Linked DNA regions of Homo sapiens: region 1 is linked to region 2. Evidence: fine-mapped expression QTL. A gene starts in region 2. The other region holds a variant in brackets. All regions are shown on one strand. Distances are between the middles of the regions. Region 1 has its middle 64 kb from the start of WDR26. Region 2 holds the start of CNIH3 (cornichon family AMPA receptor auxiliary protein 3).

What was found.
Region 1: its variant is fine-mapped to the expression of CNIH3 in whole blood (TOPMed, PIP above 0.99).

Annotation. Positions count from the first base shown.
Region 1 is chr1:224,496,956-224,501,340 of GRCh38, reverse strand. It overlaps a transcript of CNIH3 not described here. Among named protein-coding and RNA genes, the nearest start is that of WDR26, 64 kb to the right of the region's middle. RefSeq lists enhancers at 98-598, 599-1,099, 2,475-3,006, 3,082-3,281, 3,007-3,536. The variant A/G (reference allele first, on the strand shown) is at 1,982.
Region 2 is chr1:224,613,881-224,618,265 of GRCh38, reverse strand. It overlaps CNIH3 (cornichon family AMPA receptor auxiliary protein 3), which reads right to left and starts at 1,949. Exons shown (of 6, transcript NM_152495.2): 1 at 1,011-1,949. The coding sequence starts at 1,091. CNIH3-AS2 (CNIH3 antisense RNA 2) reads left to right here and starts at 2,039. Exons shown (of 4, transcript NR_183287.1): 1 at 2,039-2,068; 2 at 2,530-2,654; 3 at 2,839-3,062.

The DNA of each region.
Region 1 (4,385 bases), 120 kb after region 2:
AATTCTTTACAAAGTGCCTTTCACCCAGTAAGCTCTCAATAATGATAGTATTATTGCCCATGACCATTTATTCAACACTCTTAAACCCCTACAATGAACAAAGTATGACTCCGCCTACCTCAAGTGTCTTTCTGTTCAATATAGGAGTCAAATATACAAACAAGTGGACATAAAACAAAGCAGAATTAGTAAATGCACATGAGATAGAAACATGATATGCTTTAGAGAGTAGAGAGATGAAAAAAAAGATTACTGTTTCCAGAACAGAAGAGGCACAGCAGCAGAGGTGGCCCACGAGCAAGGCTTTGAAGCATAAGCAGGGCTCTGATCAGTGGAAGCAGATGGTAGGTTCCAGGAAGTGGCAGAAGGGGAGGCATGGAGATGTGATGGTGCAGGGTGTGTGGAATGCACAGATGCCGGCTGCTTCCTCGGGTTCCAGCCCCCCTTCTTCCATCCTAGCAGCCTCATTGTCCACTTAGGCATCCACTGCATTGTGGGGAGTCTTGAGGTCAAGGGAAATCGTGCAGCAGGTAGCCACTCAGCACATCCCAGCCCACTGGCGACTGGGGTTGGTGCAGGGGCAGATGTACGTCAGAAACAAGTCTACTCAGATTAAAGATCAGTCATGAATGCTGGGGAAAAGTCATTCTTTTTTTTTTTTCTTTGCTTTTTTGTCTCACTCTGTCGCCCAGCAGGTTGGAGTGCAGTGGCACAATCTCGCCTCACTGCAACCTCCGCCCCCTGAGTTCAAGCCATCCTCCCTCCTCAGCCTCCCAAGCAGCTGGGACCACAGATGCATGCCACCAAGCCTGACTAAGTTTTTGTATTTTTGGTAGAGATAGAGTTTCGTCATGTTGGCCAGGCTGGTTTCCAACTCCTGAGTTCAAGCTATCTGCCTGCCTCGGCCTCCCAAAGTGCTGGGATTACAGGCATGAACTGTTGCACCAGCCAAGTCATTCTTTCTTTAGAGACATGAGATGAAGGCTGCTGGCAACCATTTTGGGACCATGAGAATTAGGAAGAAATTGTGGCCAGGCACAGTGGCTCAGTTTGTAATCACAGCACTTTGGGAGGCTGAGGTGGGAGGATGACTTGAGACCAGGAGTTCAAGAGACCAGTCTGAGCAACATAAGGAGACACTATCTCTATAAAAAAAAAAAATTGTTTTAATTAGTCAGGCTTGATGGTGCAGGCCTGTAGTCCCAGCTACTAAGGAGGCTGAGGTGGGAGGATCACTTGAGCCCAGGAGGTCAAGGCTACAGTGAGCCATGATTGTGCCACTACACTTCAGCCTAGGAGACACAGTAAGATCCTGTCTCAAAAAGAAAAAAGAAAAAAGAAAGAAAGGAATTAGATCCTTGGGGAATTGTTGAGCCTTACCCAAAGCCCCACTCTGACACTAGATTTCTTTTTCTTTTCTTTTTTCTTTTTTTTTTTTTGGTAGAGATAGGATGTCGCTATGTTGCCCAGGCTGGTCTTGAACTCCTGGCCTCAAGCGATCCTCCTGCCTCAGCCTCCCAAAGTGCTGGGATTACAGGTGTGAGCCACAGTGCCCAGTCAGCTGACTCTAGACTTCTTTTGTCCCAGAAGCAAATAACGGCGTGTATTGTATAAGGCAGTTGAGCTATGCTTTTCAGTTTCTTGATGTTCAAAAAATGACCCGAAATAGAGAGTTATAAAAAATTGAAACTAGAAAGGTATTAGAGGGTTAAATCATGAAAGGCTTTCCTTGCCCCATTCTAAGGCATTAGACTTTATGCAGGCAGTAGGAAATCCCATTGAAAACTGTTGAGGAGGGAGGTGGCACATCAAATCTGTTTTAGGAAATTGATGGCAGGATGAAAGATAGACTGGAAGGGAGAGGGATTAGAAGCAAACCAACAAAAACAACGATTGATTAGTCATGAGTCTCGGCTGGTAAAGGACATTTTATCAAATATCTCCAGATGTCCACATGGCCTGGAGTGGGGAAGAGTAAGAA[A/G]GCAGAGATACCTATGGCAACCTCTCTTCTTATCAGAACCAATGGCCTGCCCTTCACCCTTAAGAGCTTAGTGTATACAGCAGAGAGTCCAAATCCTAATACTGTATTACAATACCTCAGAAGGCTACCCAGTTGTCATAGAAGCTTCAAACAACAGGAAATTTTTAATTTTAAAACAAAGTCCATTTTAATTTAAATTTTTAACTAACATTTTTAAAAGGCGGGGAGTAGGATACAACCCCAAAACAATAAGCTTTAACGGAGTGTCTTCACTACCAAAAGTTTGTGAATCACTGATCTAAATCATGGCACTCCCAGCACCCCTTCCCGGAGCGGGTGCCAGTCCTGGCATGGGTTCCCAGCCCTCTGGGGAGCTACTGGTGTGCTAAAGCTTTGCAGTGCCTGCGGACAGGAAGAGGCTCCAGAGCTCCCAGAGCTCCCATCCTCAGATCCACAAAAAAATGCGAATCTCTCCTAGAGCAATGTAAGTGTCTTGATTCCTCTTCCTGTCGCCTTTCCCCGCTGCCCTTTCTGCTGCACTGTTGCAGCACTGGGCTGATGACGCCAGGGCAGTGAAGGTTCCTTGCCCCCCGCATCTTCCCCTGTGCTGAAGCAGCGCATGGTAACCTGGCTGCCCGTGTTCTGATGCATTCTCCATTCTTTCCCACAGGCACACTCCCACCTGCATTCCAAACTGACTGTTTCATTTACATAATTCCAATAGCTTTCACTGCCAGCTTCCTGTTTTTGTAAACTCATGTAGAATTTTTTAGTTTCATAAGAAACAAGGGCCCCAGCTCACAATCACCCTCTACCAACATAGTTTATCTGCATCAAAGAAGACAGGGAAGCTTCTGTCCATTGGTTTCCCTTCTTATTTTAGAAATAGAAGCTTAAAAAACACCCCAGTGGTTTCCAATCCAGAGAGTTGCATATAAGCTTTTGACTTTACTGGTTACTGGCTTCCTGTTAACTGAAAGAAGTTTCAAGCTGAGTCAGAGAAGAGAACCGGGCCCAGCAGTGATTCATTAGTGTTGCTAATGACACCCCTACCGCCACCACCATCACTGCTGCTTTTGCTGGGGCTGCTGGGGCCTCCATGTTAGCCTAATCCTAAGAGAGCAAGAAACTGAAGCCATTGTCCTGATTTTCTCTTCCAGATGGCATTGCAGTGGCAGCAGTGAGCACAGGCCAAGCAAGACTGGCCTTGAGATGAGGAGGCCAGATGGGCCCTGAATCAGGGTGGTTTCAGGATGCCCAGGAAGGCACTGCTGCTGCAGAATAACTTCCCCCTCTCCCTGCCCTCCCTTTGCACAGTGCCTGAAGATTCTTCCTCCTTCTGAGCTTTTCTGGTCTTCCTGTAAGATACAAATACAGCTTAAAAGGGCTGCTCATACCCTAATATGATTAATGTGATGAGCTCACTTTGGAAAATACTAATCACTTGAGACATGCAGATGGAAGAGATGCTGAATTATAACCCAAAAGACTACCAGGCCAGAAAAGACAGTCAGGAAAGAGATGCAAGTGTCAACTACTTCTCAGTTTTGCCCAGATCCGGGCTTCACTGCAGGGTCATAGTCAGGAGCATCTGACCACCATACAGCCAGCAGTGCAGGAAGTGTTCAGCACTCTTCAGCCATGACTCTAGTTTAGGGATTTCTCTCAGTGCCAAGATCCTCCTGGAGGGCTCCAACAAACAGCAACACATAAAAAAAGTTGCTTTAGAAATGCATCTATAACAACAAAGGGTTCCCAACCCATATTCTTGCAGCTAAGTCTGTCATATGCATTATCTTATCTAATCTTCACAGCAACCTAGGAAACATCACTTCTCCTGATTCTACAGATGAACAGTGAAGATGATGCCACAAGTAAATTTCTGACTTAAAATATCATATTCCATCACAGTATAATTGATTAATTCCTAGACTTTAAAAATCAACATATCATTCACATAACATAAAATCTATCATTTTTTAAAGTAAACATAAAATCTATCATTTGTTAAAGTATACAGTTCAGTGGTTTTTAGTATATTCACTATGTTGTGCAAACATCACCACTAGCTAATTCTAGAACATTTTCATCACCCCAGGAAGAAATCTTGTACCTATTAGCAGTCACTCCCAATTCCTCCCTATGCCTCTCTCCCTGACAACCACTCCTCTACTTTCTGTCTCTATAGATTTGCCTATTTGAACATTTCATATTAATGGAATCATAAAATGTAGTTTTTTTGTGACTGGCTTCTTTCACTGCATGTTTTCAAGAGTCATCCATGTTGTAGCATATAATAGTACTTCATTCCTTTTTATGGCTGCATAATATTCCATTGTATGGATATACCACATTTTGTTTATCCATTCATCCATCAAAGAACACTTGAGTTGCTTCCCCCTTT
Region 2 (4,385 bases):
CCATTCTTCCCACCAGCCCTCTGAGGGTGAGGATAGGGGGCTTAAACAACCTCAGAGAAGGAAGCCTTGAGAGTTGCATGCACTCGCTAAATGTTGCACAGTCTTTGAGAGGACCGGCGTACGCACTCCTGCGCGCTCTCTCAGTACTTCTCTTCCCCTATTCAGAAGCTTGCGCTCCTCTATTCCCACCCACACCTAAAGAACTGGGATCCACGGCTGCCCTCCACCTGGCGTAGCCCCGGGAAGGGTGACAGGAAGCTTGTGTGGGCTGGGGACGCTGGGGGCCTAGCGGAGGTTCGCCACCTGCAGGGGGTCTTCAGGAGTCGGACTTCAGACGCCAAGAGGGCAGATGGAGGACACCGTCGTCGCTCTCCACGGTCTCTCTTCGTGACTTTCCTCCATGGCCTTAATGATGCCTGCCCTTCCCAGTCTCCCTCGCCTCCTTGCTCTTCTCCTTCTCGCCTTTCCCCCACCGCCTTCCACTTCGACCCCCATCGCCTGGTCTCCTTCCTCTCCGTGGGCTCGGCTTCTCCCTACCTCTTACAAGGCGCTCCCGTCGTGTTTCCACTTTGTCTCCAATTATATCTAAATGCAACCCACCACAGATGCTGACATTTTAAATGTTTAGTTATTATAGCTACTTGACTAATTGCCGGGACCGACGGCGGCGCTTCTCCTTCGCCTCCCGCCGGCAGGAGAGGACGGGGCGGGAGAGGAAGGGGTTAGTTGTGGTTGTAGCCGCCACTCCCCGGCGCCCGGGACCCGGGACGCCCAGTCGGGCCCTGCAGAGGGTGTCCTACCTGGGCACCAGCGGCCCCTCGCCTCCAGCCAGGGCACCGAAGGCGCGCCCGGCGGGATGCAGCGAACTGCCTCCTGCCCCGGGACAGTGGAGCGGCAGAAGGTCCAACCTTCCGGTTCGCCCACGCCCGCAAGGTGGAAAAAGTGGGGTGAAATCGGGGAAATTTAGCGAAATTGGGGCGAAAGAAGAGAGACCAAAGCGTGTTACTCACGTGCCAGATGGCGAAGAAGATGAGCGCAGCGCACAGCACCAGAGACAGCATGTAGCAGAACGCAGCGAAAGTGAAGGCCATGGCCGGCGGACCCCAATCCCACCACACACGCCAAGAAGCCCCTAGGAGCCCGATGCCTCCCTAGAGGACCGCACTCCCTCCAAGGAGCCGCGTCTGCACGCTCCTCTCCAGGCTAGTGCCCAGGAGGGCGCACAGCTAGCGAAGCGACTCGAGGGTCAGCGAATAAGCGCTGGATTCCCGCAGGCTCCGGCGACCCCAGACCCGGCCCTCCGGCGAAGACAGGAAAACGTGTGTCGAGAGTCGCTGGAGGGAACCGTCCGCAAATCGAAGAAGAAACCAAATCAGCAGCGAACACCTGCAAATTAGTGCCAAGCTGTGAGCCCCTCGAGACCAACACGACAAGCGATGCGACGACTCCACGGAGGACCGAGGGAGGAGGTCCCATTCGCCCCAGGAAGAGCTCTCTGCTTTTCTCCACTAAACCGCTGAGGAGAGACGAGCGCTCCGCTCCGGACCCTCCCGCGCCACCGGGGCGCAAACGGATAGTGTCCAGCGAGGTGCCCGAGCGGCCTCCGAGCTCCTCCCAAATCCCAGAGCCGGGCAGCGCTCTTTCCCGAGAGAAGGAGTCTTTAGGTAGCCGGGAGGAGGTAGGTCCCGTTGGTCCTGCGCCCCAGACGCGGCTTCCAGCGCAGCCGTGCGCTCCGAGGCGCGCCCGTCCCCAACCGTGACTCCGGCCAGCCGGCCTCCGCAACCCAAGTGTCCCGGAAACCGGGGGTCGGACCGGGGCGAGCACTGGCTCCACCCAACGGGCCAACTCCAGCCCGGGTGGCTGCAGCAGTGGGTTTCAGGCCAAACGCTGTAGCTCGCTCCACCTGCTGCTGCCGCTGCCGCCGCCGCCGCCGCCGCCTTTGCCACTGCGAGAACTGTAGCGGTGCGACCCGGGATTCCCTCCTCTCGGCGCCCCACCCTCGACTCCTGTTCCGCTGAGCGCGCCCTCCCCGGCGGGCGGAGACTGCAGCGCCGGGGGCTGAGGAAAGGTGGGTGGCGAAGCGCCGCCGGGCGCTTGGTGGCCGCTGCCGCCGCCACTGCAGCTGTGCACGCCCGCCTCTCGGAGGAAACTTGAAGCCAGCAGTACAAGCAGGGCTGGAGGCCGAGCGGAGGTGGGGCGGGACCGGTTGGAGCAGGGACTCTTTAAACACGTGCGTCTGGAGGAGGTGGGAAGCTGCGGAAGGGTATGGTGTGTGCCTCGCGCCTAAACGCCGCAGCCGCCCCTCCCGGTTCTTGCAGTTTCGCCTATCGGAGTGGGAAGTGTGGGGACTTGGGGCGTTGCCTAGTGTTGGTTGGGGATACAGTGCAAGCCTTGGATCCCAAAGCTGCTTGGATGGATTTTACCAAACTGTAGCATACTCAGTGCTTAGGGCTGCGTTTACTGCTCTGCTCCCAGACCCTGCAAAATTCTCCATTAACGTCCTTCCGTTGCATCCTCTACCCTCCCCAGCCATCCGACCTTGGGACTAGGGAAACGTGGACTTGGTGGGCTATTCTGCGCTGAAGAGGCAGCAACGAGGGCTCGGTGGTATTGGTGTTGGTCCTAGTGGAATTGTCAAGAGGATGCTTTTGAAGGTAGACCGTTTTCTAGCTGCAAGTTACCTAACCTCTTTAATCCTTAGTTTCCTTATCAGAAAAACATAAATAAGAGTAGAGTCAAGCCATTTCAAAGGATTAAAAGGGAACATAAGTAAAAAACCTAGCACTTGGTATACGTTCAATAAGTGGTAGGGATTATTAATTGCACCCTTTCCCCCAGTGGCCCAGCATCTTGGAAGTTCACCATGCTTGCTTTGCAAGAGATTCCTGACGCTGCAGTGAAAGAGGTCCAGTCATTCCAGAGAGAACTTCAGTTTCAGACAAGTCATCAAATCCAGAAAGCAAGGAAAAATACCCTGAAAGACGACTGGCAAATCTCGGTGAAAGAGTAGACGCACTTCATGGATTGGAGTGAATCTTAGAGCACCTGGTACCTTGCACAGGGTGGGAACTAGATAAATAACTATTGCTTGATTCTGACTCTGGTGTGCTAGTTTTCCTGTTCACAGATGTGATTCCAATGCCTTGAGAGCTGGAAGGGATGAATTCCAGCAAGATAGAGATACAGCTTTCTAGTGACAGAACTGGAATCCTGTCTGCGGACTCCTAATCCTGGGCTCTTTCTACTATGCCCCAACATTCCTGCAGCTATTTGGCCACATCTTTTACTTATTTATTTATTTATTTATTTATTTATTTATTTATTTATTTGACGGAGTCTCACTTTGTCGCCAGGCTGGAGTGCAGTGGCGTGATCTCTGCAACCTCCACCTCCCTGGTTCAAGCGATTCTCCTGCCTTAGCCTCCCGAGTAGCTGGGACTACAGGCACGCACCACCACGCCCAGCTAATCTTTGTATTTTTAGTAAAGACGGGGTTTCACCATGTTGGCCAAGATGGTCTCGATCTCTTGACCTCGTGATCTACCCACCTCGGCCTCCCAAAGTGCTGGGATTACAGGCGTGAGCCACCGCTCCAGGCCCTTCAATTTATTTTATTTTATTTTTTTGAAGACAGTCTTGCTGTGTTGCCCAGGCTGGAGTGCAGTGGTGCTATCATAGCTCACTGTAGCCTCAAACTCCTTGCTAGGACTACAGGCATGCACCACCACACCCAGATAATTTTTGTTTTGTTTTGTTTGCAGACATAGGTCTCAATATATGGCCAGGCTGGTCCCAAACTCCTGGCCTCAAGCAGTCTTCCAGCCTTGGCCTCCCAAAGCGCTGGGATTATAGGTGTGCACCACAGTGCCTGGCCTCATATCTCCCTCCAGTTTAGAAACTAGATGCCTTTCAGTGAGAAGTGGAGAAATTAGAGCAAATCCAGAGGCTGATGACCAGAGCAATGAACCGATCTACATTTTATTGCCTCTGGGTCAGGACCGGCTACATACTTTGGAGGGCCAAGTGCAAAATGAAAATGTGGGACTTTGTATTAGGCCGTTCTTGCATTGCTATAAAGAAATACCTGGCCAGGCATGGTGGTTTATGCCTGTAATCCCAGTACTTGGGGAGGTCGAGGTGGGCAGATCACCTGAGCTTAGGTATTTGAGACCAGCCTGGACAACATGGCAGAAACCCCATCTCTACAAAAAATACAAAAATTAGCCGGGTGTGGTGGCATGCACCTGTAGTCCCAGCTTCTTGCAGGGCTAAGGTGAGAGTGTTGCTTGAGCCCAGGAGGTCAAGGGTGCAGTGAGCTGTGTTCATACCACTGCACTCCAGCCTAGGCAATAGAGCCAGACCCTGTCTCAAAAAAAAAAAACAAA